Linked DNA regions of Homo sapiens. The protein of the gene in region 4 interacts with the protein of the main gene of each other region in a pairwise test. Each region holds a gene or a part of one and is shown on either strand. Other genes may lie near its edges.

What was found.
Region 1: the proteins of RBM17 (region 4) and IQCN interact in binary tests that used the Homo sapiens proteins (3 or more experiments, as listed by UniProt).
Region 2: the proteins of RBM17 (region 4) and U2SURP interact in binary tests that used the Homo sapiens proteins (3 or more experiments, as listed by UniProt).
Region 3: the proteins of RBM17 (region 4) and CCDC170 interact in binary tests that used the Homo sapiens proteins (3 or more experiments, as listed by UniProt).

Annotation. Positions count from the first base shown.
Region 1 is NC_000019.10:18,270,847-18,279,416, forward strand, and holds the start of IQCN (IQ domain-containing protein N), read right to left. Parts: upstream 3,607-8,570; 5' UTR 3,557-3,606; intron 1-3,556. UniProt on the Homo sapiens protein: Essential for spermiogenesis and fertilization. May be required for manchette assembly in elongating spermatids.
Region 2 is NC_000003.12:143,018,336-143,025,941, forward strand, and holds part of U2SURP (U2 snRNP-associated SURP motif-containing protein), read left to right. Parts: intron 1-1,633; coding exon 1,634-1,701; intron 1,702-2,263; coding exon 2,264-2,358; intron 2,359-3,014; coding exon 3,015-3,050; intron 3,051-3,137; coding exon 3,138-3,220; intron 3,221-4,161; coding exon 4,162-4,327; intron 4,328-4,517; coding exon 4,518-4,729; intron 4,730-5,639; coding exon 5,640-5,683; intron 5,684-6,148; exon of another isoform or gene 6,149-6,213; intron 6,214-7,606.
Region 3 is NC_000006.12:151,566,601-151,574,206, forward strand, and holds part of CCDC170 (coiled-coil domain-containing protein 170), read left to right. Parts: intron 1-6,573; coding exon 6,574-6,891; intron 6,892-7,606. UniProt on the Homo sapiens protein: Plays a role in Golgi-associated microtubules organization and stabilization.
Region 4 is NC_000010.11:6,105,718-6,113,323, reverse strand, and holds part of RBM17 (splicing factor 45), read right to left. Parts: intron 7,184-7,606; coding exon 7,086-7,183; intron 4,639-7,085; coding exon 4,582-4,638; intron 3,339-4,581; coding exon 3,197-3,338; intron 1,115-3,196; coding exon 963-1,114; intron 1-962. UniProt on the Homo sapiens protein: Splice factor that binds to the single-stranded 3'AG at the exon/intron border and promotes its utilization in the second catalytic step. Involved in the regulation of alternative splicing and the utilization of cryptic splice sites.

The DNA.
Region 1 (8,570 bases), on a different chromosome or scaffold from region 4:
AGATTGTGATTAAAGAGTAAGTATAAGATAAAAGGTAACCTGGGAGGCCAGGCATGGTGGCTCACACCTGTCATCCCAGCACTTCGGGAGGCCAAGGCAGGTGGATCACAAGGTCAGGAGTTCGAGAACAGCCTGGCCAACATGGTGAAACCCCGTCTCTACTAAAAATACAAAACTTAGCCAGGCACAGTGGCATGCACCTGTAATCCCAGCTACTTCAGAGGCTGAAGCAGGAGAATCACTTGAACCCGAGAGATGGAGATTGCAGTGAGCCGAGATCACGCAACTGCACTCCAGCCTGGGCGACAGAGTGAGACTCTGTCTCAAAAAAAAAAAAAAAAAACCAGGCGCAGTGGCTCACGCCTGTAATCCCAGTGCTTTGGGAGGCCGAGGTGGGTGGCTCACGTGAGGTCAGGAGTTCAAGACCAGCCTGGCCAACATGGTGAAACTCTGTCTCTACTAAAAATACAAAAATTAGCCAGGTATGATGGCAGGTGCCTGTAATCCCAGCTACTTAGGAGGCTGAGGCGGGAGAATCTCTTGAACCCAGTAGGCAAAGGTTGCAGTGAGCTGAGATCATACCATTGCACACCAGCCTGGGTGACTGAGCGAAACTCAGTTCAAAAAAAAAAAAAAAAGATAAAAGGAAACTCTATGTGGTACTTTAGGGCTGAGGGAGTATCCCCAAAAAAGGGGCAAATTTGGAGAGCATTCAGACTTCCTTGGAGAAAGTATGGTCCCGCCTAACAAGTTAACGGAGATAATTGCTGGATCGGCCAAGCCAGAGCTGGTCTGGAGTTGCAAAACAAGCAAAAGGCCCACCCTCCAGGGTGCAGATGTGGGAACAGGTTATCAACAGTTGGTGCTCTGGATGTGCACTGGAAACCTAAGTGTTGCTGGGGCAGGAGGCCTTCAATGTGTATGGGCCACCGTGGGGGCTCTGTTCGTTTATTATCATTTATTTATTTATGATTTTTGAGACAGAGTCTCACTCTGTCCCCCAGGCTGGAGTGCAGCGGCACTCAGCATCTTGGCTCACTGCAACCTCCGCCTCCTGGGTTCAAGCGATTCTCCTGCCTCAGCCTCCCGAGTAGCTGGGATTACAGGCATGAATCCCACCACACCCAGCTAATTTTGTTTGTTTTGTTTTGTTTTGTTTTTGGAGGGACGGGGTTTCACCATGTTGGCCAGGCTGGTCTCAAACTCCTGATCTCAGGTGATTCGCCTGCCTCGGCCTCCCAAAGTGCTGGGATTACAGGCGTGAGCCACCGCGCCTGGCCTTTTTTTTTTTCTCTCTCTCTTTTGAGTTTTGTTCTTGTCGCCCAGGCTGGAGTGCAGTGGCGCGATCTCCTTTCACTGCAACCTCTACCTCTCGGTTTCCAGCGATTCTCCTACCTCAGCCTCCTGAGCAGCTGGGATTACAGGCACCTGCCACCACGCCTAGCAAATTTTTGTATTTTTAGTACAGATGGGGTTTCATCATATTGGTCAGGCTGGTCTCAAATTCCTGACCACAGGTGATCCACCCACCTTGGCCTCCCAAAGTGCTGGGATTACAGGCATGAGCCACCGCGCCCGGCCTTAGGGGCTCTGTTTTTTGTGTGTGTTGAGAGGGCTGCAGAAAGGTTTTCACCAGGTCAAGACTGCAAAGTCACAGGACCACGTTCTGGATCCAGGGCTCGGGCAGGCTTCACCTGGTGTCTTCACACCTCTATCCCTAATGCCTCACCAGCGCCCTCTATTGAGAAATCTTAGCATTGTGCTCACTTTTTTTTTTTTTTTGAGACGGAGTCTCGTTCTGTCTCCCAGGCTGGAGTGCACTGGCACCATCTCGGCTCACTGCAAGCTCTGCCTCCCGGGTTCACGCCATTCTCCTGCCTCAGCCTCCTGAGTAGCTGGGACTACAGGCGCCTGCCACCACGCCCAGTTAATATTTTGTATTTTTAGTAGAGACGGGGTTTCACTATGCTAGCCAGGATGGTCTCCATCTCCTGACCTCGTGATTCGCCCACCTCGGCCTCCCAAAGTGCTGGGATTACAGGCGTGAGCCACCGCGCCTGGCCGAGCATTGTGCTCACTTTAAACAAGACATAACGAAAGAAATTCCTTTGTTTATCACATATTGAAAGGGTCCATTCGGAGACAAGAGGCAATGCATGGATAATTGACACACATATATTTATTATTTTTATTTTTTTGAGATGGACGGAATCTTGCTCTGTTGCCCAGGCTGAAGTGCAGTGGCACGATCTTGGCTCACTGCAACCTCCGCCTCCCAGGTTCAAAGTGATTCTCCTGTCTCAGCCTCCCGAGTAGCTGGGATTACAGGCACTTGCCACCACACTTGGCTAACTTTTGTATTTTTAGTAGAGTTGGGGTTTCGCCATGTTGGCCAGACTGGTCTCGAACCCCTGACCTCAAGTGATCCGCCCGCCTCGGCCTCCCAAAGTGCTGGGATTACAGGCATGAGTCACCATGCCCGGCCTAATTATTATTATTATTCTCTTTGAGACGGAATTTCACTTTTGTTGCCCAGGCTGGAGTGCAATGGCGCCATCTTGGCTCACTGCAACCTCTGCCTCCAGGTTCAAGCGATTCTCCTGCCTCAGCCTCCCAAATAGCTAGGATTACAGGCATGCGCCACCACACCTAATTTCGTATTTTTAGTGGAAATGGGGTTTCTCCATGTTGGTCAGGCTGGTCTTGAACTCCTGATCACAGGTGATCTGCCCGCCTTGGCTTCCCAAAGTGCTGGCGTTACAGGCGTGAGCCACCTTGCCCGGCCTAATTTTTGAATTTTTAGTAGAGATGGGGTTTGACCATATGGGTCAGGCTGGTCTCGAACTCCTGAGGCAGGAAAATCACTTGAACCCGGGAGACAGCAGCTCTGGGAGCTGAATGGGCCCATTCCAGGGGCTGAGGTTTCATCAACCAAACGGTGCAGCTCTTTAGAGGAACTCAACCAGAAGGGGTGAGAAACGGGATTGTGGGGGATGAGAAGAAGGAACAGGGGCCCCCTGGACACAGAAGCCAAGCGACTGGCTCGGTAATTTTGAGTAAACCCCTCTGAGCCTCAATTTCCCTATCTGTCACAAGACATAAGATCACCATCCTCAGGTTGCCAAAGAGACACAACAGGCTCAGCTGGGCGCAGTGGCTCCTGCCCGTAATCCAAGCACTTTGGGGGACCAAGGTGGGAGGATCGCTGCAGCCCAAGAGTTTGAAAACAGCCTGGGCAACATGTCTCTATTTATTTAAAAAAATAATAATAAAGAGACATAACAGGCTCTCCATGATGTCCCCCATCACAGGTGAACAAATCCACCATCAAGGCTTTAGAGGTCCCTAGAGCCCCTGCTGTGAGGGGCCAAGGAGCTGACCCATCATTTGCAGTCACCCAGAAGGCCCAGAAGGGCTCTAAAGGCACTGGGGGCCAGAGGAGAACGACAGGGTCCCCCACGAACCCTCGCAAACAAGTCCTCCACCAGCCCCACTCACCCGCCCCTGAAGCCACCAGCCCCACTCACCCGCCCCCAAAGCCACCAGCCCCACTCACCTGCCCCTGAAGCTAAACCTAGCAGTCTGAACGGCCAGTCTTGGAGCCCTGGTGCCGCAGCAGCTTTGTGACTCAAAGCCAAGTTCTGGCCAATCCCTGGCAGCTCTTAGGGGGTGGGGATTCTAGAAGGCACAGCCAGAGGTTGGGGAACAGGATGCAGGGCAGGGCCAAAGGTCATGGTGGTTGCTACCTACACCGGCTCATCCTGAGTACAAAGGGTTCTCAGCACAGAGGGAACCCCAAATCTCCCCCTCCATGTACCTAGAGGCAGTTTCAGTCTTTCATCCCACGGGCATTTTCTGAGCACCTACTATATGCTGGAATTTGCCCCATGTCTGGGGATACAAACAACTCAAAGAATTTGAGGCTGTAAAATGGCTAGATGGGAAGGGACCAAAAAGGGGGTGCAACGGGCCAGTCAGGGTTCTCACTGATGTCTTGGGTGTGGCTCTGAGACTGCGGGCTCCTTGGGGTGGGGCCGGACTTGATCTCTTGGGATCCCCACTGGGCCCGGCAAAAGTGGGTACTGACCCTGAGCCGCAGCGCTATAAGGGGAAGTCAGGCTGCTGTCCTGGATCACCTCCTGGGGCTGGGCTGGGGCCCAGCATGAGTCACCGCTGGCTGGGCCAAGGCTGACACGCACCTTGGACTCAGTGCAGCTGGCTCCAGCCAAAGCCAGCCTGGCCCAGAAGCCTCTGCCTGGCTTCCTTGGGGAGCCGCTGGGGGTTGCCGGGACAAGAACCAGCAGGGGTGCCTGACCTCCCTCTGCAGCGATCACCCCCTCCAAAACCTTCCCTATACTGTGGGTGTGACTTTGGACAAAATCAGGGACATGGCAGATGGCAGTTGGGTGGGGTTTATATCCTTTGTCTGTTTTTTGAGATTGAGTCTCGCTCTGTTGCCCAGGCTGGAGTGCAGTGCTACGATCTCAGCTCACTGCAACCTCCACCTCCCCGGGTTCAAGCGATTCTCGTGCCTCAGCCTCCTGAGTAGCTGGGACTACAGGTGCATGCTATGACGCCCAGCTGATTTATGTAGTTTTAGTAGAGATAGGATTTCACCATGTTGGCCAGGCTGGTCTCAAACTCCTGACCACAAGTGATCCGCCTGCTGCGGCCTCCCAAAGTGCTGGGATTACAGGCATGAGCCACTGCACCCAGCTCATCCTTTGGATGTTTCATCAGAACAGGTCCCTTCTGTGCTGTCAACGAGCTAAACACAAACTGGGAGTTCTCAGGGCAATTGGAGACCGTAGGAGCCCAGTAAGGTGCTGGCCTAGCCTGAGGGTTACTAGGGACAGGCTTCCGAGGACTGTGCAGCTGAGGCTGGGAGGTGGCGCTCAGCTGCATGACTGGGGGAAGAGTAGCTGGCACAGAACTACAGCTGCAGCCGTGCAAAGACCCTGAGGCCAGGAAGGCAGGATATTGGGAATTTGGGTGGAGAGGCTCCTGAAAGGAGACACTGGCCAGCCCAGGGACTGGTGCAGTCAGGACTTTTTCCAAAAAGGTTTCAAGTAAGGAGTCAGATCTGTGATTTAGAAAAAGCCCTTCACATCACAGCTCATGCCTGCTTGACTCCCCCATCAGACTGGAGGGCTGGCCTCAACTAGGTGTCAATAAATGCTGGGGACGCTGGGCGCGATGGTTCATGCCTATAATCCCAGCACTTTGGGAGGCCAAGGCGGGCAGATCGATTGAGCCCAGGAGTTTGAGACCAGCCTGACCAATATGGCAAAACCTCGTCTCTACTAATAATACAAAAATTAGTCAGGCATGATGGCAAATGCCTGTAATCCCAGCTACTTTGGTGGCTGAGGCAGGAGAGTCACTTGAACCCAGGAGGTGGAGGCTACAGTGAGCCAAGATTGCACCACTGCACTCCAGCCTGAATGAGAGACCCTGACTCAAAAAAAAAAAAAAAAAAAAAAAAAAAAAAGAGGCCGAGTACAGTGGCTCAATACCTGTAGTCCCAGCATTTTGGGAGACCGAGGTTGGAGGATCACTTGAACACAGGAGTTCAAAACCAGCCTGGGCAACATAGATCCCATCTCTACAAAAAAATTATTTAAAAATTAGTAGGGCGGCTGGGCGTGGTGGCTCACGCCTGTAATCCCAGCACTTTGGGAGGCCAAGGCTGGCGGATCATGAGGTCAGGTGATCGAGATCAACCTGGCTAACACGGTGAAAGCCCATCTCTATTAAAAACACAAAAAAATTAGCCAGGCATGGTGGCAGGCGCCTGTAGTCCCAGCTACTCAGGAGGCTGAGGCAGGAGAATGGCGTGAACCTGGGAGGCGGAGCTTGCAATGAGCCGAGATGGCGCCACTGCACTCCAGCCTGGGCGGCAGAGCAAGACTCCGTCTCAAAGAAAAAATAAAAATAAAAATTAGTAGGGCATGGTGGCGTGCACCTGTGGTCCCAGCTACTTGGGAGGCTGAGGTGAGGCAGGACAATCAGTTGAGCCTAGGAGGTCAAGGCTGCAGTGAGCTGTGGTCTTGCCACTGCACTCTGGCCAAGGCAAGAGCGAGACCTCATCTTGTAAAGAAAAAAAAAAACAAACTTGTGGGGCCCAGTGGCTCACGCCTGTAATCCCAGCACTTTGGGAAGCCAAGGTGGGTGGATCACCTGAGGTCAGGAGTTCGAGACCAGCCTGGGCAACATGGTGAAACCCTGTCTCTACTAAAAATACAAAAAAAAATTTAGCCAGGCAGGGTGGCTCACGCCTGTAATCCCAGAAACTTTGGGAAGCTGAGGCGGGCAGATCACGAGGTCAGGAGATCGAGACCATCCTGGCTAACACGGTGAAACCCCGTCTCTACTAAAAACACAAAAAAATTAGCCGGGCATAGTGGCGGGCGCCTGCAGTCCCAGCTACTCAGGAGGCTGAGGCAGGAGAATGGCATGAACCAGGGAGGCAGAGCTTGCAGTGAGCTGAGATCGCGCCACCGCACTCCAGCCTGGGAGACAGAACGAGACTCCGTCTCAAAAAAAAAAATTTAGCTGGGCATGGTGGCAGACACCTGTAATCCCAGCTAATCAAGAGGCTGAGGCAAGAGAATCGATTGAAACTGGGAGGTGGAGGTTGCGGTAAGCCAAGATCAGGCCATTGCACTCCAGCCTGGGCGACAAGAGGAAGACTCAGTCTCAAAAAAAAAAAAGAAAAACAAAGTACGTCCTCCACCTCTCTGCAGGGCTCCTCAGAGTCCTTTCGCCTTAGACCACTTGGGGGCAGGCAAGCAAGAGACCTGGGTTTGAATCGCTGCTCTGCCATTTAACAGGGGTGTTGGCCGGGCACGGTGGCTCACGCCTGTAATCCCAGCACTTCGGGAGGCCGAGGCGGGCGGATCATGAGGTCAGGGGATCAAGACCATCCTGGCTAACACGGTGAAACCCCATCTCTACTAAAAGTACAAAAAATTAGCCAGGCGTGGTGGCGGGCGCCTGTATTCCCAGCTACTCAGGAGGCTGAGGCAGGAGAATGGCATGAACCCAGGAGGCGAAGCTTGCAGTGAGCCGAGACTGCGCCACTGCACTCCAGCCTGGGAGACAGAGCGAGACTCTGTCTCAAAAAAAAAAAAAAAAAAAAACAGGGGTGTTGGGCAAGTCTCAAAACCTCCCTTCCCCTTCTCTACTAATTGGGGGCCACAGTAGGTACCATCATTGAGTGCGGTCACTGTTGTCCGTCCCCTGAGCACCTCCCAGTTCTGACTTCTGACCTGAGAGATGTTATGCTGGATGCAAACACCCGCATCTCACAGCACAGGATGTAGAGGCCATCGGGGGAGGAGGACTCGCCTGAGATCTCACAAATGCCAACTGGAACCTAAGCTGGGTCCCGGTCTCCCAACCAGTGACACTCTGCCCGAGATGTGGTTCTTGGTCTCTTGTGTGTCAAGACACCCCTGCTCTCCCACCTCAGCCTCAGTTCCCTTCAGCAGGTTCCTTCAGGCCCTGCTGAAACGTCTGCATGACCTCCCACAAGGCAACGTGACAGCTAAAAACCAAACCCTGGCCGGACGTGGGGGCTCACGCCTGTAATCCCAGCACTTTGGGAGGCCGAGGCGGGTGGACCACTTGAGGTCAGGAGTTCCAGACCAGCTTGACCAACATGGTGAAACCCTGTCTCTACTACAAATACAAAAAAGTAGCCGAGCATGGTGGGCACCTGTAATCTGAGCTACTTGGAGGCTGAGGCAGGAGAATCACTTGAGCCCGGGGAGGCAGAGGTTGCAGTGAGCCTAGATGGCGCCACTGCACTCCAGTCTGGGTGACAGAGCGAGACTCTGTCTCAAACAAATGAACCCCAACATAGCTGTTGGTGGCAAGGCCTTTCTCCATGACCAAGGGACGGTGGCCATTCTCTCCAAGTTTCTTCATCTGTAAAATGGGTACAATTCAGTGGCCCTCCCTAACAGGGCTGGCTAGGTACACATGGCCACCAGCCCTACTTGCTGTGTGACCTCGGCCACTAATGTTCACATCCCTCAGGGTCCCCAATGAGTTGGAAGCCCAAAGCGCAGGGTCTTAACAGCAAAGGGCAGAGCAGGCAGGAGAAGCAGGAAGCCTCGGGTCAAAGCTCTGAAAGTGAGGGAGTCCAAGGTCAGACTATCTCTGCACAGTCTCCTTAAAAGGCTGTGTGATGTCAAGCCAGTTGCTCAACCTCTCTGAACCTTAGATTTCCTCAAAGTAGGGAGTAGGATGTTGGGAGGAGGAGGAGAAGCGAACTTCAGGGAGATACTTGGAAAATCCCAGTCCTGGAGGCAGACCTCTTGGGTTAGATCCCACCTGTGCCAACTTCCTCCTGGTACTGGGTCCATCAGCTTGTCCTGGGCCTCAGCATCCCCCGATCCACCAAAAGAGAAAAGCTTACACTGTAAGCCAAGCACTGCTCTGTAAACATAAACTCTCTTAATCGTCACAACTTTATGGGGCAAGTTTTTCGACTGTTCTCCCCATTTTATACGGACAGGCAAACCAAGGACCAAAAGGTTAAAAAGTTTACTAAGTTTCTGTCT
Region 2 (7,606 bases), on a different chromosome or scaffold from region 4:
TGCTTCAAGGTGCATCTTTGTTGTGGCATGAATCAGTACTTCATTCCTTTTTGTGGTTGAATAATACTCCATTTTATGGACATACCATATATTGTTTATCCATGCATTACTTAGTAGATGGACATTTGGATTGTTTCCACTTTTCTGCTGTTAGAAATAATGCTGCTGTAAACATTCATGTGTGGGCTTTTTTTGTGTGAACTTATGTTTTCAGTTCTCTTGGATACATGTATATACACACACCGAGAAGTGGAATTGCTGGGTCACATGGTAACTATGTTTAGCCTTTTGAGAAACTGCCAGTTTTTCCAAAGTGGTTGTATCACTTTACAGTTCCACCAGTAATGTATGAGGGTTCCAGTTTTCTCACGTCGTACACTAACACTTTGAGACCAGCCTGACCAACATGGAGAAACCCCGTCTCTACTAAAAATACAAAATTAGCCGGGCATGGTGGTGCATGCCTGTAATCCCAGCTACTCGGGAGGCTGAGGCAGGAGAATCGCTTGAACTCGGGAGGCAGAGGTTGTGGTGAGCCAAGATCACAGCATTGCACTCCAGCCTGGGCAACAAGAGCGAAACTCCATCTCAAAAACAAACAAACAAACAAACAAAACTATTTTGTTTGAAAAGTTTATTTTAGTCATTTTAGTGTGTGTGAAGTTGTACTTCATTGTGGTTTTGATTTGCATGTACTTGATTATATTGAGCATCTTTTCATGTGTTTATTGTCCATTTATAAGTTTCTTTTGGAGAAATGTCTGTTCAGATACTTGGCCCACTTTTTAATTGGGTTATTTGTATTTTTGTTGTTGAATCGTAAGAGTATTTTACATCTTCTTGAGTCAAGGTTCTTATCAGCTATATGATTTGGAAATGTTTTCTGTTCTCTGGGTTGTCTTTGCATTTTCTTGATGGAAGCATGGAGGTTTTAAACTTTAATGGAGTCCAATTTATCAGTTTTTTTCTTTTGTTTACGCTTTTGGTGTCATATCTAAGAAACCATCACCTAATTCAAGATTATGAATATTCATTCCTGTGGTTTTCTCCCAAAAGTGTTATAGTTTTAGCTCTTACTTTTATGTCCATGAACCATTTTGAGTTAATTTTTGTACATTTAGTATATGGTGTAAAGTAGAAGTCCAACTTCATTTTTCTGTATGTAGATATTCAGTTGTCCAAGCACCATTTGTTGAAAAGATTATTCTTCCCTATTAAATTATGTTGGCACTTCTAAAAGAAGGATTCCAAAAGTAGATTAAGAAGCAGTTTTAAAAGAGGATTCCAAAGATGTTACTTACTGTTCCAGTAACTCATGTCCTCCAGAGGTGATTTTTGAAGAGTGCGTATTTTTGGCAGTTACTTTCCATGGCAGTTCAGTTACTTCATGTTCATTAATTTCCCTGACTACTGGTTGTCATTTTAATTGTTTAATTGTAGTAATAATTTAATTGTTTGTTATTTTGAAGGAAGGGGAAGGGAGGTTCAATGATAAGAAAAGCATTCTTCCTTTTTAATTTAAATAATTAGAACATACAATTTGTACTGAAATGATGTAAAAAGGCTCTTATTATTGAATCATTGGTTTTGCTTATCCTTTTGTTTGAAGTATAACTTGTCATATCCTTTATAGCCACTTAAAAAAGGAGAGAAAGAAAAGAAAAAAAGCAATTTGGAACTCTTCAAAGAAGAATTAAAGCAGTAAGTTTTATAGTGTGGAGAATAACTATCATAGGTGTATTGAGCTGATACATAAACAGATGCAAGTATAAAGAATATACTGTACCAGTTAGTTATTACTAACCAGTTTGCTATGAGATTGTTTTAGATATTATAATATTTGGTGGGCTATCTTTGAAAATAAATTAGCATTTAGTCCAGCACCTGGGTTGCTTGCATTACGAGGATTCAGTTCAATTGATTTACTTAATGTCCAGAGTCCTGTTTGCAGTGGAAACAGTATACTCACTGGGATGGGAGTGAGGGGCAGTTAGACTTAGCAAGAAACAAATTCAGTGGTTTTAGTGTTTAATTTCCTCCTCACCTTTAAAGTAGGCTTTGTGTTCCATTGGTAGTATGATATATCAGAAATTTGCTCGTGGTTGTATTATAGCTGAGGGACCCTCTAATCTTGGTTATCAGTACCAGTATTTAATTACAGATATTTCTAGTTATTTGATGATAGTAATTTGATAAGCGCTATTCTGAAATGTGAATGAACAAATTTTGGCTCATTATAAGTGATTGTAAATATTTTCAACAGAATTCAAGAGGAACGTGATGAGAGACATAAAACAAAAGGCAGATTAAGTCGATTTGAACCTCCTCAGTCAGATTCTGATGGTCAGCGTCGTTCTAGTAAGTGGCATTTATTTTAATGTGTATGCTTGTGATTAATTACAGTAGTTCCCACCTTATCCGTGGCGGGTTACATTCCAAGGATCACCAGTGGATGTCTGAAACCATGGATATATACTATCCTTTTCCTTACACATTCATAGCTGTGGTAAAAATTAATTTGTAAATTAGGCACAGTAAGAGATTAACAACAATAAGTAATAGAACAATTATAACAATATACTGAAATAAAAGTTATGTGCAATCCCAACACTTTGGGAGGCCGAGGCAAGTGGATTACCTAAGGTCAGGAGTTCGAGACCAGCCTGGCCAACATGATGAAACCCTGTCTGTACTAAAAATACAAAATTAGCCGGGCGTGGTGGTGCGTGCCTGTAATCCCAGCTACTCAGGAGGCTGAGGCAGAAGGATTGCTTGAACCTGAGAGGCAGAGGTTGCAGTGAGCCGAGAACGTGCCATTGCACTCCAGCCTGGGCGACAGAGCAAGAGTCTGTCTCAAAAAACAACAACAACAACAACAGAGTTGTGTGAAGTGGTCTCTCTTTTTGTCTCTCAGAAATACCTTACTGTAACAAACTGGGGGAAACAAAGGTGAGGGTAAGGGGGGACTACTGTATTATAAAAACTAATAATTGTCTTCTTTTCTCCCCTTTAAGTGGACGCGCCTTCAAGAAGAAATAGATCATCTGGTGGTAATACAGTTTTTTGCTCTTTTAATCGATAAATTTTCCAAACTTTATGTTTTGCAGGTTATAATTCTTTTTTTCTTTCTGCCCTAGTTCTTGATGATTACGCACCTGGCTCACATGATGTAGGAGATCCAAGCACTACTAATTTATACCTTGGAAACATTAATCCACAGGTAATATTAAGTAAGATGAATGTTGATTGATATGCTTTATGCTTTTGGAAGAAAGCTTTGTTAGTCAAAAAAAATCAAGATTCTGAAGCTGACAAATCTGATGGAATTGGATAGTCTTTAGAGTTGTCTTACTGGTATGGCCCAGGTTGTCTTGCCACATATTCTTGTTTCCTCTTTCAGTAACTAGATTGAACTCTGGATTTGAAATGTTTTACTAGGTGCTGATTTTATTATTAAATCAGGGTGTGACCATTGATGAATAATATTATTTTGAGACTGTCCACTTCTGATGCATACTTGTTTCCTTGTGGAGTCCCTTTTTCTTCTCATAGTAGTAAACTACTCTTTGTGGTTTGTCTTTTATATTTTAATTCTTTTCCTGCATTGGTGCTGTTAATTATGATATGGGGAATGTAGTAACGGTAGTATATAATATGCTATTATTAAAAATTATATTTTGCATATATACTGTTACCTGTTTTCTCTGCATTTGATTACATGGGTAGTTGATTGTTAGAACAGATGATTAGATACTTTTTTTCTTCATTGTCAATACATATTTCCTCTTTAATTTAAATGTACTAACCATGCCTGCTTGAAAAATGTTACTAAATGCCTAAACAAACCATCACTATAAAACATCTTACTTAGATCCAGGACCTTAAAACAAAGGAAGATAGAGAGTAAAAATGATTTTGATTTCTTCATCCACTGAACTTCCCCACCCTGGCATCTTAAATAAACCAGAATATTTATAGTATGAAATGATTTATGAATGCCCCACGCGGGATTTTACTTGTGTGGCGTTCCTGGTACTTAAATGGAAAATTGAAGCACGTTGCTATGTTGCTTTTTATTTTGTAAAAACTACTTTGTTTTCTGAAAATAATTTTTTCTTTTCCCTTTTTTGCATAATAAAAATCTTTTACCCTTTTTAATAGATGAATGAAGAAATGCTGTGCCAAGAATTTGGAAGATTTGGACCGTTAGCCAGTGTGAAAATCATGTGGCCTAGAACTGATGAAGAAAGAGCCAGAGAGAGAAATTGCGGCTTTGTGGCCTTTATGAATAGAAGAGATGCTGAAAGAGCTTTAAAAAATTTGAATGGTAAGAACATTTTTATTATCCATTTATACAATTCAGATATTTCTTTGGTTTGGAAAAGTATTTATAAAAACTAGGAAGGATTGGACCTGAAATGGAGAGGTTAAAATGAAAATTATTTCAACTCACCAGAAAAATTTTGTTTGGAAACTTTTGAGAGTTAACAAAATGACCTTTCATTTCTTTCTTGTAGGAAAAATGATTATGTCTTTTGAAATGAAGTTAGGTTGGGGTAAAGCTGTACCTATTCCTCCACATCCAATATACATTCCGCCTTCTATGATGGAACATACGCTTCCCCCACCTCCATCCGGACTGCCTTTTAATGCGCAGCCTAGAGAGCGGTTAAAAAACCCTAATGCTCCTATGTTACCGCCACCTAAAAACAAAGAGGATTTTGAGAAGGTAATTTAAAAAATGGACATAAGGCCGCATCTAATTTGTAAATACTAAAGCTGTGGTAGTATTTCTTTTCAACAATTTTATAGAAAATGTGTGTGTAATTCTGTTTGGCAACTTTTAAAGAAATAAGTAGATGTGTTCCCTGCCTTAGCCCATGGAAACCCTATATTTGAAATACTAGGTCATATTTTTATTTGTGGCTACCATTCCTTTTTTGACCACTTGTTAAGTTTTTTTTCCTTTGTCCAGTGTTGTATCCAGATTTGCTTAAGTGTATTAACTAAATTTACTTTGTTCTGAGAAAGTGATACTTTGTATTTGGTTAAGTGACATTTCAATTAGAAAGACCTCCTAAGTAGTTATTGTTTGGATGGCAGCTAGATCTGAGGTATTAGAATATTTGAGAAGATTTATGTGGTTTGTAAAAAATAGTTAATCTAGTAAAAGCAAAGGGTGAGTATTTTCTTTTTAGTAAATAAAACCAACTTAATTTCAAGTTATAAGAATTCGTTGGTTCTATTATGAATTAATTACACTTAAAATGACAGGGCTGGTTTTAAAGGCTTGGGAACAAAGTAGCGAACTGTATGGTCAGAGGCAAACAGTTAATTATTTCACAAATTAAAATCTTTATCTGATAATTCTCAGTGTAGTACCTATTTCAGTGCATTGATGTGCATTCTGGCAGGAATGTTCTGATTCTTTGCATTTGGTGAACGTTTATTGTTCACTGAACACATCCATTTGCATTTATGTAATTGCTTAGTGTATAATGACTTCAAATGCAGTGATTGCCTGCAAAACTTGTGATTAGATATGTAGTATTTTCAATGCATATGTATATTTTTGCTTGTTACTTGTTAACAATACTCACATATTCTATGTTTATTATCTGATGTGACTTCATATACAGACTCTGTCGCAAGCCATAGTCAAAGTGGTTATCCCAACAGAAAGGTACATGTTTTTCTTTATTATTACTGATCTAAATATAGACAATATCCCCTTCTGAATTTAAAAAGAAATGGTGTTGAGGAAAAGGTAGTATCTTGACTGAGCAATGGTTCCTTCCCAGTACTTTTTGCGGGGGGATGTGTGAAATTTAACTAACTTTTGTATACTTTGCAATTTTATGTCAGTATCTTTTTTTGTTTTTATTGTTATCACTGTAGGGAATGTTTATAGTTTGACTAGTTAGAGTGTATTTATTAGCTCTGATTTGGAGTCAGACAATAGACTATTGTCATGGGAAAATAGATGTTTTAAGTGTGTCGTAAATTTCAGATAACGTTACAGTTTGACCCAATCTGTTGTTATTTTTTTCTTGTTTTCTGAATTATCTGCATTTAATATATAACCTTGGTTTGAGTTCTCCTTACTGAAGGCATAGCTTTGTTTTTTGTTTTTTCAATTGATTTTAAGAAGAAATTCCTATTATTGTCATGAACACTGGACATACTAGAAACTTTCTTTTCATGGTAACAAAGGTATTTGGAATTCTTTTATTTTCCTTTCTTCCTTTTTTTCTCTTTCAACACACTATTAAAGCAGAAGAATTCATGCTGTAGGTATGCTCTTGCTCAGTCAAGCTAAGCCTTTTCCCAAACACAGGAACACAACACTGGTTGAATAATAAATGAACACAAAAGAATACCAAATTCTCTTTGACATTGGCCTTGGTGAGCAACACCAGCTGAACTGTCTGCGGCAGCGGGGGACCAGGAAAACATCATGGGATGGATTGGGAAAGTATACAGTTTTTGACCAGACATTGGTACGATCGACTCCAATAAATGTGGTTTTATTATAACTGAGAGACAATTTTTTGTTTTTGTTTTTTTTTTGGTTATTGTTGCCCAGAATAAGATAATTACCATTTTAAAATTAAATAATGCACTTTAAATATATCATCTTTTTGTACTACACTGTTTTATTCTAATAGAAAAGTCACCATTTTTAAAATAAACACAATCCTTAAGGAAGAAGAATGTGATTACAGTTCTTTAGTAATCTTGACATCAAGTTAATAACAATTAATTGTCAGATTTTGATTTTAAATAATCATGAAACATTTTAAAAATACTTATAAACTTTTAATTTTCTAAAAATAGATTTATCAGTTACAAGCCTGTTTAAAACTATAGTGGGTTTTTCACCACTGATAAAAGCATTCACAGGATAGTATTTTTGTAGCATTCAAAAAAAGCACATATCTAGTGGTAGCTTTACATGTATGTGGCTCAGCTTATTTCTAAACAAAATTTTGAGTGTGCGTTTTGCCGAAAGTCTTCACTCACCATTAGGATGAATCCTTTGTTTTTAAACTTGCTAAACAATTTTCCTCTATCTTAAATGCTAAAGTCAAGTTGCTTTTGACTTAATTCACACAAGTTTCTGGATGTATAACATTTGTCCACCTAGTAATTAGTCTTATACATAAAATTTCCCTTAGCTTTAATTTGGCTCCTATCAGTGGGGAGTTTTGGAATTGAATCATAACTTTACATTATCGCCCTTCCTTCAAAATAATGTCATTAACCATATGAATGCTGAAGAACTGCATATTTGCAGAGCAATTACTTCTGTGAAAGAGAAATAATTTTTAAATAGAAAATTAAGCAATGTTTTTAGTTTTTTGTTTTGACAATTTGAGGTTGAATTAGTAGTTTTAAATGCATGATTTCCCCTTTGTAAAGATTTAAACTGTGATGCAATTTTTTTTACTTCCTTTAGGCTTAAATTTTTTTCACTATGGAGAGATTTCATTTTAAGTAGGTTTGTTTGAAAGCTATGAGAAAATAATTATAGTCACCTTGAGATAGATTATTTTATTGTTCATGTACTCTGAAATAGGGCATTATAGAGCCACAAAAGTCTGTC
Region 3 (7,606 bases), on a different chromosome or scaffold from region 4:
TCGATAATGAAAATCAGAATAAACATGAGAGAAAGAATAGAATTACCCAAATTGTACACATTCTTCTTTGTGTGTAGGAGATTAGTATAATGAATCACTAGTATCACTATTATACTCATAGCCTTCCTTTTGTTGTTCTTTAGTCATAAGTTTTATTATGACTAAAATTCCCTGTATTTAAGTTCTACATACACACTTTGAATGAATACTGCTTATGTTAGTATTTAAAGTTTGTGACAATCAGCTGCTTCTTGCTAGTTCACTTAGTTAATCTTGGTTGGATTGATGACAATGTTGCTTTCAGTGCCTGTTGTATAGGAAATTTTTTCTTTTTTTTGAGACTGAGTTTCGCTCTTGTTGCCCAGGCTGGAGTGCAATGGTGCGATCTCAGCTCACTGCAACTTCTGCCTCCTGGGTTCAAGTGATTCTCCTGCCTCAGCTTCCCCAGTAGCTAGGATTACAGGCATGCACCACCACACCCAACTAATTTGTATTTTCAGTAGAGACGGGGTTTCTCCATGTTGGTCAGGCTGATCTTGAACTCCGGACCTCAGGTGATCAGCCTGCCTCGGCCTCTCAAAGTGCTGGGATTACAGGCGTGAGTCACCGTGCCTGACCCCTGTGAAACTGTTTTTATGTTTTGCTTTTCAGATACTTACAGTAGAAAACAAATCTAACAGAGGTTTGTTGAGAATAGATTTTAAAGCAATTTCAACAAGCTCAATATATTTGTAGGTACCTTGTATTCAAATTAAACAATTGTAATTTCAGCTTTCCTTTTTTTTCTGTTTATTTTTTCTTAAAAATATTTGATAGAGACAGGGTTTCACCATGTTGCCCAGGTTGGTCTCAAACTCCTGAGCTCAAGTAATCCACCTGCCTTGGCCTCCCAAAGTGCTGGAATTACAGGTGTGAGCCACCATACCCGTCTGAAACAAATGTGTTTTCAAAATCCATCTTCAATCCTTCATCTGTCAACAGTTCTATTAGTTTATTTTGTAAAGGTATAGTTATGTTTAAATATGATGAAATTCTTTTGAGGAAAGAAATGGGTTCTGGATTTTATATACTTATTTAGATTATAGTTGGCAAACCAGCCTTAAAATATCACATCTGTAGCCTGTTCCTTCAGTGTACAACAGATAGCAACTCTCACCACTAGCCACTTACCACACAAGTCTAACAAAGAGTGAATAGGTACATACTTCATTCAAAAATGGAGTATAGGCTGGGCGCGGTGGCTCACACCTGTAATCCCAGCACTTTGGGAGGCCGAGGCAGGCAGGCGGGTCACAAGGTCAGGAGTTCAAGACCAGCCTGACCAACACGGTGAAACCCTATCTCTACTAAAAATACAAAAATTAGCTGGGCATGGTGGCACGCACCTGTACCCCAGCTACTCGGTAGGCTGAGGCAGGAGAATCGCTTGAACCCGGGAGGCGGAGGTTGCAGTGAGCTGAAATCATGCCACTGCACTCCAGCCTGGGCGACAGAGTGAGACTCTGAAAAAAAAAAAAAAAAAAAAAAAAAAGGGAGTCTATGGTATTTGGATGTTGCATCAGTGTCAACTTGCTATAGAAATTGCTAATATCTTACCCTCAATTTCTGAAATGATCTTGTTGGGACTGTGAACAGCAGGTGCAGGAGTGGTACCAGAATGTAAGTTTGAATAGTGCTGTCCAAGGAGGGTTTTGTCTGTATTAAAGTTTGAATCACAGAACTGAATGCCAAACTTCAGGCTTGGTGTAATTCGAAGGAAATAGAGCAGGACATCACCTCTCTCATTCTAAATACTTTACTTTTGTGAATGCAGCCCAAGTTTGGGAAGGGGGGAATGGGTGTGTGCATGTGCATGTGTATATTTGTGCTCATATCACTGTTGACTCAACACTTTAAATGGACTAAAATTCCCCGGTGTTTTCATAGTTGCCACTATTCTATCACATCTTCCTTTCATTCCTAACCCCTGGCTACAATTCCCTTCTCTAGAGGTGATGAGAATTGGCAGTTGCTTGTGCATGTTTCTAGAGATATTCTTTTCATAAAGGTACAAATGGTACTATACTATGTACCATTGTTATTTGTATAGATGCACTATTAAACACCTTACTTTCTTCACTAACTGTATCTTGGAGAATCATTCATATTGGTATATAAAGAACTTCCCCATTTCATTTCAAGACTACATCATATTCTATAGTATGGATGTCTCATATTTGTTTAAGAAGTTACATATCAAAGAATATTCATGTAGTATGTTGTCTTTTGCTATATTATAATTGGATAACTACATATTCCTCATTTTCTATATTTAGTAACCTATCTTATAGATATATCCTCAGGACTGGAACTTCAGGGCCAAAAGATAAGTGCATATTAAGTTTTGTTATGTATTTATGCCAACAATTTATACCAAAATTATACCTGTTCACATTGCCACCAGCAATGTATGAGACTACCTGTTTGGGGGAATTTCTGAGTTTTTTTGTTAATCATAACTGCAGTAGGTAGAATTAACCAACTGATTTTTTTATTTTATAAAATTGATCTAGGATTGAAGGAATTAAGCTCAAGCCACAGGTTCTCTGTCCTGATGATAATCATTGTACTTTTGAGTGGCAATTTGATCTCATGTGTATCTAAATCCATAAAATAGCAACAGAACAGGAATCAATTGTGTTTTTAAAACGCAAACCTTTGGATGGTTTCATTACTTAATGCAGACTCGTGCATTTAAATGGGAAGCTAAATTGAATGCCATAATCATATTGTTTATTAAAGTTTTTGTTAAAAGTAATTTTGAAAGAATCATTTTACATTTGTCGCTTCAGTCAGACTGAACCTAAAGACTTATTAATTATAAAAAAATTTTTTAAGTGATCCCCATCACAGTCTATAGGGCCTGCCCTCTGTGATTTCCTCTGTGGAGGTCAGTCTTGGTTTTGCTCACAGGAAGCTTTATGTTTCTTGTCCTGTATGTCAGTGTGGTCTGACAGCAATCCCCAGGTCCTGGCCAGTGGTACTGATGTCACATTATTTTATGCCGCTTGCTTCGGCGTATCCTTGAGGTAGCCATGGAACCAGAATCCACTCTGATGGCTTTCTCCTGATAGGTGAACAAGTAATTGCATTTGCAGTCTGAGGACATTTATTTCCAGAAGATCAGCCCTGTGCCCCTGAATCCTGCAGCACTTAATCAGAGCACTAAGGGAGCGACCATCCCCAAGGCCTTGTCACTCTGGCTCTCGAGTCCTGCATTTTATACAAGAAACAGCTTAGGGTTCACTGAGCTGAATGTGCCTGAAAAAGAGAAACCCAACTTGCTCACAGACACCATTGTATTCTATGAACACAAACTGATTTTGTGATTTTCACTAGACATAAATGTTGATGCCTAGGTTTAAAAAGAAAACGTTCTTTGGATTTGTTAGAGAGGATTGTTTTGGCCCTTTTCTTGAAGTCAGTGAAACATTAGTATGATATTGGGGTAGAAAAATTCCTCATAGTTGAAATATTTTAATTGTGTTTATTGGTCTTGTGGTGTTGGCTGCCAGTTGAGTTGTCTACTCCAAATTGACAGTAACTCCATAAGTCACAAGCATCTGAGATATATTTTGTGTATTTTGAGGGTCTTTAGTGAATATATAATATTCCATATGGTTTTAGAATTCTAAAGTGATTAGGATTAATTTCCATCCCAGCATCATTGAATTTAGGACCTCAATTTTCTAACCACACATCAGACTGTGCAGTCGACCCTCTGCATCCACAAGTTCCACATCTGTGGATTCAACCAACTATAGATAAAAAAATATGGAAAAAAGCCAATACAAATAACAAAACAACAATAAAAATAATACAAATAAAAACAACACATGATAACAGTTATTTATCTAGCATTTACAGTGTATTTGGTATTATAAGTAATCTAGAGATGATTTAAAGTATACAGAAGAATATGTGTAGCTTATATGAGAATATTATTCCATTTTATATGGGAGACTTGAGCATCCTCAGGTTTTCATATCTTCCGGGGTCCTAGAACCAATTCCCCAAGGATACCAAGGAACGACCGTAGTTTCCAAGTAAAATATGCCCCAATTTATTATCACCTTTACTGATACTAGTTACTCTAATTGAGCAAGTGAGAAGATATTGTATTATGATCTGAAGAGAAATCTGTAAACTGTTAAAATATTGAATTTGTGATAAAGTGTCCTTGACTCTACTTTTAAGGACCGTCATTTAATTAGCAGCAACAGTGGGGCTTCTCTACAGACATGACTAGTTTAGCAAAGGAAAGGGGAAACCAAGACCTTGAAAAGCAAAAGGCATTTTACAAAATAGATTCCATAATTAGTTGAGTTATTACATCTCTGAAAAGGGCAGGCTTCTCTAACTACATATCTACTCTGTGACTTTTCTTTCAAATTGATGCCTGAGACTTCCTTGATTTTAAAAAAGTCACCATAATGGAAAAAATAAGATGTTATGTTTCCTATAAAAAATAGGAACTAGTGTTTCAGGCTATCCTTTTTCCTGTTTCCAAGCTGTTAATGGAGAGAAATTTCTTTTAAAGCCCAGTTCTAATGCAAAAGAGGTGACTGCATTTTAACTGGCAGCCTGAAATGTTATCAGCTCATTTAGATGTAGAGTCTGTTATTTAAAAATATTGTGTTTCTTTTTAGTGCTTTTTACCTCTAACATACTATTTTTAATAATTTTTTTTTTTTACCAGTTAACTAGGTAGCAATACTACAGCCATGCTAGTTAACACGCCGCTTAATATTTCTTAATGTGAATTCATGTATTTTGGAACTTGATGTTAAAAAATAATTTTAAAAATCAATTTTAAAGATGCTCATGCCTGTAATCCCAGCACTTTGGGAGGCCGAAGCGGGTAGATCACCTGAAGTTGGGAGTTCAAGACCAGCCTGACCAACATGGAGAAACCCTGTCTCTACTAAAAATACAAAATTAGCTGGGCGTGGTGGCACTTGCCTGTAATCCCATCTACTCGGGAGGCTGAGGCAGGAGAATCACTTGAACCCAGTAGGCGGAGGTCATGGTGAGCTGAGATTGTGCCATTGTACTCCAGCCTGGGCAATAAGAGTGAAACTCCGTCCCGGGAGAAAAAAAAATCCTCCTTTGGTGCCTCTGTGGGCCATTCTAGATTATGGTAAATAGAATTAAGTACACAGGTAACCTTCTTTATGTCCTTCATTATTTTTCTGAACCTAATTTCACATGTTATGTTCTTATGTTGTTATTTTGAGACAAGGTCATGCTGTGTCACCAAGTCTGGAGTGCACTGATGCAATTACTGCTCACTGTAGCTTTGAATTCCTAGGCTCAAGCAATCCTCCTATCTCAGCCTCCCAAGTAGCTGGGACCATAGCACATGCTACCATGCATGGCAAATTATTTTATTTTATATAAGATGGGGGTTTACCAAGTTGCCCAGGCTGGTCTCCAACTCCTGGGCTCAAGCAATCTTTTGTCTCGATCTCCCAAAGAGCTGGGATTACAGGAGTGAGCCACTGTGCCCAGCCCATATTATATTCTTTAAGATTATTCTTCTAAGTATGATACTTTCCCTCTACTTTTAATCCTCCCACCTACCAAATGGCTAGTTGTTTCTGTTTCCTTTCTTCAGGTTCTTTCTGCGTTGTCTTTATGAGACAAGGGGATATGCAATGAATATTGGATATTGGAAGTCAATGAATAGTTTTATGCAATGATGTTTTTATGAGAATATTCCTCTATTATTCAAAATAGCATTGAGGGGGCATCTTTATTCAAATAATTGTTAGTGCCTAGCTAGGACTCTGAGAGCTTACTGTTTATTAAAAATAAATTTCCGTATACACCAAGCTTGAGAAAGATAGTTCTATAAACATATTCTACATATGGACTGAATCTACTAATATGTTATCCAATGATTTGTTTTTATTAACTCTTTCCAGTATTCCACACAGAAAAGGCTTATGTGTCAAAGTTTCCTTCTTTTTTCTAACCCAGATTTTATATTTTATATCCCTTCTCTGTGTTTTTTTTTTTTTTTTTTTTGATGGAGTCTTGTTCTGTTGCCCAGGCTGGAGTACAGTGGAGTGATCTCAGTTCACTGCAACCTCCACCTCCCAGGTTCAAGCAATTCTCCTGCCTCAGGCTCCCGAGTAGCTGGGATTACAGGTGTGCGCCACTATGCCCCGCTAAGTTTTGTATTTTTGTTTAGTAGAGGTGGGGTTTCACCATGTTGGCCAGGCTGGTCTTGAACTCCTGACCTTAGTGATCCACCCACCTCAGCCTCCAAAATGCTGGGATTACAGGTGTGAGCCACCACGCCTGGCCCCATTTTCTGTTTTTAAGACACCTAAATTTTCCTGACATACCATTGGGATTTAATAACTTTATGAGGAGACTATAGGGAACTTGGAGTTAAAAATGGAAGGAGTAATTAACCCAACCCCTTGTAGTCATTAGCAGGCAAAGTCAATGAATTTGCCATAGCAAATGCAGGTGTACCCTGTTGACTTCTAATGGTATTGTCTTCACTTTCTGTAATCATTTTAGGACCTGCTCAGTGCTGTAGAAGCAAAAGAAGCTCTTGAAAGGGAAGTTAAGATCTTCCAAGAAAGGCTGCTTGCTGGCCAGCAGGTCTGGGATGCCTCAAAGCAGGAAGTGAGCCTCCTGAAGAAAAGCTCTTCTGAGTTGGAGAAGAGTTTGAAGGCCAGTCAGGATGCAGTCACAACCTCACAAAGCCAGTACTTCTCATTTAGGGAGAAAATCGCAGCCCTCCTTAGGGGCAGATTGAGCATGACTGGGTCCACTGAGGACACCATTTTGGAGAAGATTCGAGAAATGGACAGCCGGGAAGAAAGCAGGGACCGGGTGAGTGGGTCATGGCTGTTTACAGACATCTTAAGAACAGTGAGCTCATTCATTTAGCATGCTCAGTGACTGTATTAGTCTATTCTCACGCTGCTATAAGAAATACCCGAGACTGGGTAATTTATAAAGACAAAGAGGTTTAATGGATTCACAGTTCCACATGGCTGGGGAGGCCTCACAATCATGGCAGAAAGCAAAGGAGGAGCAAAGGCACATCTTACGTGGTGGCAGGCAAGAGAGAGAGTGTGCAGGGGAACTGCCCTTTATAAAACCATCAGATCTCCTGAGAGTTATTCTCTATCACAAGAACAGCATGGGAAAAAGCTACCCCCATAATTCAATTACCTCCCACCAGGTCCCTCCCACGACACGTGGGGATGATGGGAGCTACAATTCAAGATGAGATTTGGGTGGAGACACAGCCAAACCATATCAGTGACTTATCTCAATTAGCTAAAAGCATCACTTAAGGCCAGGCCTGGTGGCCTAGGCCTGTAACCCCAGTCCATTTGGAGGCCAATGTAGTCACTTGAGGCCAGGAATTCAAGACCAGTCTGAGCAATATAGTGAGACCCCTCTCTCTACTGAAAATAAAAATTAAGTCCCAGCTACCTGGCAGGCTGAAGTGGAAGAATTTCTTGAGCCCACGAGTTTGAAGCTGCAGTGAGCTATGATTGCGTCTCTGCTCTCCAGCCTGGGCTACAGAGCAAATCCT
Region 4 (7,606 bases):
TCTGCTTTGCTTTGGCATGTTTTTACAATAGCATCTGGATGTTTTGAGCCTCCACCATTACTTGCAATTTTTGCTCATCTCACTTCCCAAAGGGCTGACAGGGCATGTGAGTGATAATTCCTATAGGTGAGTTGACTTGGAGCAAACGTTCAAGGTCACGGGCCCAGGGGAATATGCAGTTACTAATCCAGCCACCGGCTGCCTTACTTCAGATAACCTCACAAGTCGGGACAACTGTTGGTTTCTGGCACTCACCTGTCAGGCTCGTGATGTATCCTAAGCTGTGCATGAACGGGGCTGCCAGAAAAGTTTTCTTCTTTCTTTAGCAAAGGAAGTTCAGCTAGGCTGACTCAAACTTAATTCCCTGATTAAAATGCTAACATATGTTTGTCTCTTTCCTGAATTCCCTCAACACAGAACAGACTGTAAAAATTAAATGAAAATAAAACACCAACTAGGCATCATTTACCAAGAGACTGCAACATAACATCAGATCTCGCAAAGCAAACAATCTGTAAGAGAATCAGAAATCACATCTATACTGAAAGGGCAAAAGGGAAAAGTAGAGACGACCTCTGAGATGGAGATAGCAGGTATATTCACTGCCACACTATATGGCTCTGTCCTTCATGCTCTAAACACATAACCAAGATTTCTTCCTGAGGACTACTCATTTTCTGCCCAAGTCTCTCACCATCTTTTCCTCCACAAGCCTTCATCTCTCTACGTCTGTTCTGAAAAAATAAAGATGAGCCTCAGGATTCCTGGTTTCACAAAACGGAAGTGGCAGTGCATCATATGAACAGGACGGCCTGTGTTCTAGTGATGGCAGGGCCAGCCCTCTCCCTCTGGCCACACGCCTCATTGTCCCCCTGCTGACACATGAGGATCAAGACTGGCCATGTCTGATATGGATGGGGCCAGTCCTTTCCCTCTAGTCACACGCTTCCCTGGGGACACACCTTTCTCTGTGGCGTCGCCCACGATGATCTTGCCGCCACGCTTGCTGGTCTTCTCCACTGACAAGGCAGTGCTCAGGCCCTGCTCATGCTTCCCCAGACCCTGGCCCTCCCGGAAGCCGTACTTCTGCATGATCTTGTGCGCCACCGTGCCCCTGGCAGGAGAAGAAGGGAAAGGACTCTTAGCCTTGACATCGTCAACTGGAGATAGGTTGCATTTTTCCATCACAACAACCTCCTTCTGGAGAGAGTGCATGCTCCACAGGGGCTTCAACAAAGTCACTCATTAACTAGGAGTGGGCTATTAGATGGAAGCTGTGGGGATGTGCAGCATGAAAGAAATAGAAAAAGCTATGAATAAAATCCAGAACATCCTGTTGTCTTGGAGGGGAAATGTCAGTTTCTCTGGTGGAGTCTCCTCAGTGCCCTGCTAGGAAACACAAGACCTTTTGTGTGCTCCGGACCTGCACTGCCACATAGCTTATGACCACAGTTTATTAAAAAGTGGCTATCAAAAAGTAAGTATGAAGTTTCGTACAATGAAGATGATCCCATTTTCCTAAATAGCACAGGAGAGTTTCCAATGACAGACTATACAAATGAAAGAACCCTTAGAGATCACCTATTTAACAAATGAGAAATAAACGGAGGCCAAGATTAGCTGACTAGCTTAAGGGGTGGACTTAGAAGTAATGCAAGACGCCATATTAGAAATTATTTGTACAGGCTGGGTGCAGTTGATCACACTTATAATCCCAGCACTTTGGGAAGCCGAGGCGGGTGGATCACCTGAGGTCAGGAGTTCAAGACCAGCCTGGCCAACATGGTGAAACCTCATCTCTACTAAAAATGTAAAAATTAGCTGGGCATGATGGTGTGCACCTGTAGTCCCAGCTACTTGGCAGGCTGAGGCAGGAGAACTGCTTGAACCTGGGAGGCAGAGGTTGCAGTGAGGCGAGATCGCACCACTGCACTCCAGCCTGGGCGACAGAGCGAGACTCCATCTCAGAAAACAAATAAATTATTTGTACAGCTGTTAATGGTAGAGCTGAAACTGGACCCCACAACTCTCAGTCACTGCTTTCTGTAACAACCAAATGGCTCTCACACTGCGCTCTGAGGCGCAGCATGGGTCTGAAGGGCACCCCAACCCCATGACCACTGCTGCTTAGGGCTTAAGCCACAAAATCCCGCTTCAACTGGAACTGCACCTACATTACTTCTTGTATTTAATTCCCTTAACATTTTCATTTGAACAAGCTATTCTAGGGCTAAAAAGACCAGAAACTGCTGAATGGTACCATCTTGCATCTTTCCTAAGCACAAGTTAAAGATGTAATTCCTGGTTAAAAGCAAATTCGCTAAAAAGTCAGTTTTTATCATAAACAGGGAAAACAAAACAAAACAAAACAAAACCAGCTTCATGTCTGTCCAACCCTCCAGTACACAAAGCTTCCTGCAGCCACGGCCATGTCCTATGTCTGCACCATCCAACATCGTCACCACTTGCATGTGGTCACTGAGCACTTGAAAGGAGACTAGTGAGTTTCAACCCCACTCACTGTCTCACCGGCTGCATTTCTGCTACAGGCAGCAGCCAGCAGATGCAACACAGCACAGAACAAAGCCTTCATGTGATACTGCTTCATGGGACAGCCGTCTCACAGGATCAAAGTCAACAACACAGAATATCCTCTTAACCAAAATGTTTGCCAAGCCCAGCACAGTTTAAAAAAATCCCCAAGCCCCACCTGAGCGTCAGCCTTACAGTCAAATTTTATATGCTGGCAAACATGTCAACTTGTAGTTAGAATGACCCCGAGTTTTTTAGACCAAAGGTTTAGAACCATGACCTGAAAGCAAATGGCCCACTTTATCAGGAAAAAAAAGGTATCACCTGCCCTTTGGAGACAGTAAGTCAGCTCTGATTCATATGAGCTATTTTATTTGCAAACGTTATGAAGGCAAATGTAAACATTAATCAGGTTCTGTGCCTGTCTAGGAAAATAATGTTCAACATCAAAATGAGTCAAAACTTCTACTGGGAGGTTGCTGTTTTGAACAAGCCCCATCATTACACTGGAACACGCTCCACACGATTGAGGCAGGTACCGTGTGACCTGCACACACCAAGGGTCCTGAATGTCCTCAGTTTCAAACAAGCTGCATCTATTGAAAGGGCTATCAACGCTTCACACTGTCTCTCAAGTCCTTAGATAAGAACATTAAATCATTACCCCATGTTAGCGAGGAAGGAGTTGCTAGGTCCGGTTGGAGATCTCGGTCTGTCTTGTTCCTCGTACACTGGGGGAGGAATGGCTGCTTTGGAAGACTGTGATCGAGGTCTTGAGTCCTCTTCATAAGGAAAATCTCGGGGTACTATTGGAGAAAAATAAAGTAGGCTCACCAAAATACTATAGAAAACACTCTGAAACCTCACTTGTATCAATTATTTATCTTGAACAAATTTAACCTACTTTTTGGTTTACCACAAGGAGAGAAAAACACCAAATCAATTTTACAGCCTTTATACGACTTTTTTTAAAACCACAGAGGGAGGACGCTACTTTCCTGATTCTAACTTTCCTTTTGCTATTTCTATCTCCTCAAACGTCTTTTTTATATCTTACTGAAATGTTATTCACCCTTTAAAATCTTCTTGAATGAATATTCTTGCCGGAAAGATGTTCTGTATGTTCTAAGGAGATACAATCTGGCCATCTTTTGACTCCTGCAGTAACTTGGGTGCACCTGTCTAGACCCCGACCTCACTATCTCATCAGCTCATGGCCCACAAAGGTGTCCGAGGTTAGGGGCTACGCACTGGAGCGGTGGCTTCAACCCTAGTTAGATGAAAGTCAGTAGGACGCTTTAAGACCATCCAGATGCCTGAGCCCCACTCCCAGAGACTAGTTTCAATTGGGGTTTATTGTTTGTCTGTTGTTTTCACATAATAGGTATTTCATAATATCTTAGAAATTATCTTCTTTAAAAGATAAAGAATTCAACAAGTTTTAAAAAGTACTATAAATGAGAATATCTGCTTGGGATAGTTTAAGTATGGTCCAATCCAGAGAATGGGAAAATGACCTAGATGATATTCAGAAGTCCAGTCCCAACCCCCAAATTCTAGAGCAGATCACTGCGAGAAGGAACAGTGGGTGAGGGTGTTTTGGCAACGCAATGACACGCAAACCCACCTGCAGTGAAATGGAACGGGAAGAAAAAATCTAATCAAGGAAGGCATTGCCACCTTGTGGAGGATCATGAATATAACAGCCTCTAAACCTCTGAGTTAAAAAACTGTAACGATCTGCTGTTTTAACTCCAAATGAATCTAACAACAAATAAGAAATGTTAATGAAATCAAAGTGAATTGCATAAAAAAGAGATGGATCCCACTGCATGAAATCCAAGCCTCAGAGCCTGGCGTAGAAAGGTCTCTCTCTGCAGGAGGGCGCTGCATTCTGAGATCCAGGTGCGGCCTCAGGTGACAGAGCCAGGCAGGCTTGCAGGCCGTTTCCCTCTACGCTCAGGAAACCTGGGGGCCCAAGCTGAGATCCCCCATGGTTGGGTTAAAGACCTGTATCAGAATAAAAGAGGAAGAAACAGATCTACTTACACTCTTTGTCTTTCTCTACCAGAGAAGTGGGTGGGGCAATGGCAGCTCCGCCCATACCTGCAAAACCACAAATCCAAGCATTAAAGGAGGTTTCCGATGCCAGACTCCCAAACGACTATGACACACCATATATCTATCACCCACCCCCCTAAGAAAAAACTAAAAAAGGAGGACCTGCTACTTCAGATGACCTCCTGCTACATATGAACAAACCTCTGATGCTAGGATTTAAAATGTAGAAAAGTGGCAACACTCCCTCAGATATGCAAAATTGTTCCTTCATAAAAGGAACTCAAGAGCCCCACAATGTAGTCTGCAAATGAATTTTAAGGCAAAACAATACAACCAAGAGAACCAGCAGTTACTTAAAAAGAGAGTAATGTAACTATTTACCGAGAGCAATACCCATTAGGCCCTTTATACACATGGCCTCGTTCAGGCTTCACAGACCTCTGAAGTAGATATTACTGCATCCAGTTTACAAATAAGAGAATGATCAGAGGGGAGTGAATCAACAGAAAGGGAGTAAACCCAGCTCCCTGCGTTGCCATATCTCCCCCACCACACAGCACGCTCCTTTTCCAGTGTGCAAACCACTGGAACTAAACACATATTTGAAAGCGTGGGTCCTTCTGGCTCCTGAAGAAACTGCTGCGTGTTGTCACTATTCCTGGTGTATTTCCTGGACAACGAATGGTGAACACAAACAAACCAAAAGAGATAAGACAGATCTTTTTATCTGGTATCCGACAACTGGAAGGAGAACATCAGTGGAGACCACAAGGAATTTTGCATTAGGCATAAGTCCTAACATATATGGATTACGTATACATAATATTACATAATACATATGTATTATGGCTTAATCAACAATGAAATAAAAACAAAATGTAAAACTTTAAAAATTGATTACAAAGTCATGCTGCATCAGCACAAAATGTTTGACAAAAGAAATTATTCTGGCTGGACGCAGTGGTTCACTCCTGTAATCCCAGCACTTTGAGAGGCTGAGGCAGGCAAATCACTTGAGGCTAGGAGTTTGAGACCAGCCTGATCAACATGGTGAAACCCCATCTCTACTAAAAATGCAAAAATCAGCTGGGCATGGTGGCACACACCTGTAATCCCAGCTACTTGGGAGGCTGAGGCAGAAGAATCATTTGAAACTAGGAGATGGAGGTTGCAGTGAGCCGAGATGGCGCCACTGCACTCCAGCCTGGGCAACAGAGCAAGAGTGTCTCCAAAAAAAAAAAAAAAAAAAAAGAGGCCGGGTGCAGTGGCTCATACCTGTAATCCCAGGACTTTGGGAGGCTGAGGTGGGTGGATCACTTGACGTCAGGAGTTTGAGACCAGCCTGGCAAACATGGTGAAACCCTGTCTCTACTAAAAATGTAAAAATTAGATGGGCGTGGTAGCGCACACCTGTAATCCCAGCTACTCTGGAGGCCGAGGCAAGAGAATTGCTAGAACCCAGGAGGTTGCAGGTTGTGGTGAGCCGAGATTGCACCACTGCACTCCTGCCTGGGCAACAGAGTGATTCCATCTCAAAAATAAATAAATTCATTCTTCTAAAGAATTATTCTAGAAATTATTCTAAAGCCAGTGTCCATGCATTTTGATTAACAGGACTGGATGATATAAAATCCTCAAGGAGAAATATGAACCTGAGTAAAACCTTCTTCTATTTCCTTTGAAATACTTCCATGATCATTTTACTAACCTTGTCACTAGGACCTAGAGTGATTACTGATTCTGAAAAGCAGATTAGCTCTAATAAGTTCAGTTAAAAAAATTCAGGGTGATTACTGGAAATCTGCTACTAATCACATTAAAATAAGAACATCAATCTGTCAACAACTATACATATGATGGGCATGCCACTACCTCCCTATCATGAGCTACAAGGTCAAACAAAGTCTTCTCATTCAAAGCTATCTAGTTCCTGCTGGTGTTTAAGAAAAAAAAACAAATGTCCTTAGTATGGAAAGCATGCCTCCTTATTAAAAAGGGCAGTCAATTTATAAGCTGGAAAAATGAGACCTACAAATATTCAACCTATATACTGAATTCCAAAAGAAGTTAATAAAAACCAAACATTTGGGGATTAACTAAGATAGCGGATATGAAATGTGTCACAATGCCCAAAACAGACACACTCAATGTTAACTATGCTTCCCCCCTAAGAGAAACAACAGAGTGGATTCAGCATCGGCCAACTGGACTGTGCTGCAGGTAAAGACAGTGCAGGAATAGATTTTAAGCTAGTCCCAAAGTATCCAATAAATAAATGTTAGAAAGTGGTTGTGAAGCTCAAAGGAAAATACATATGAAAACCCAATATAAATTAAAACTGTGACGCAAATGTGTATTGCTGGGATTCCAGAAAGAAAATTACCCAAATCAATGTCAAATGAACTATTTATCAAACTGAAAAGAAAAAGCACATAGTGGAATTGCACTTCCAGTATTTATATATGTTTAAGACATATTTGTTCATGCCTTACTTCTTTTCCTCCTCTCTCGCTCATAATCTTCATCTTCATCAGAATCTGGATCTGGTCTCCTTGCAAACCCACTTGCTTCATGTCTGTCTTTACGCCTTCTGTGATAACAAAGGAAATAAATGTTCATCACAGATGAACCAATTTAGAGACCTGAACCTGGGATGACTTCCTCTTGACCAGAAGATATCCAAATCCTGTCACAATCAACTATGAAGTTGCAGGGGTAGAGGGGGTAGGAAGCATAACTGGTAAAAGACTAAAGTAGATAAAAGTATGAAAAGTGAGAAAAATTCAAGAGATAAATTGAACCAATAAGTATACGAGAGCAACCAGCATGAAAAAAAAGGTTCCTTGACATTGACCTCTTCCAATGTTAAAGCCTATCAACATAGTAATAGTTCAATCATTTCAATAGTCTATAACACTTTCACTCATGAAATGATTCAATAAATGGGAAACAGTATATTAATATTTAATACATGTTAACTATTTGATAATACTAAATATTTTTAAAAAGAACT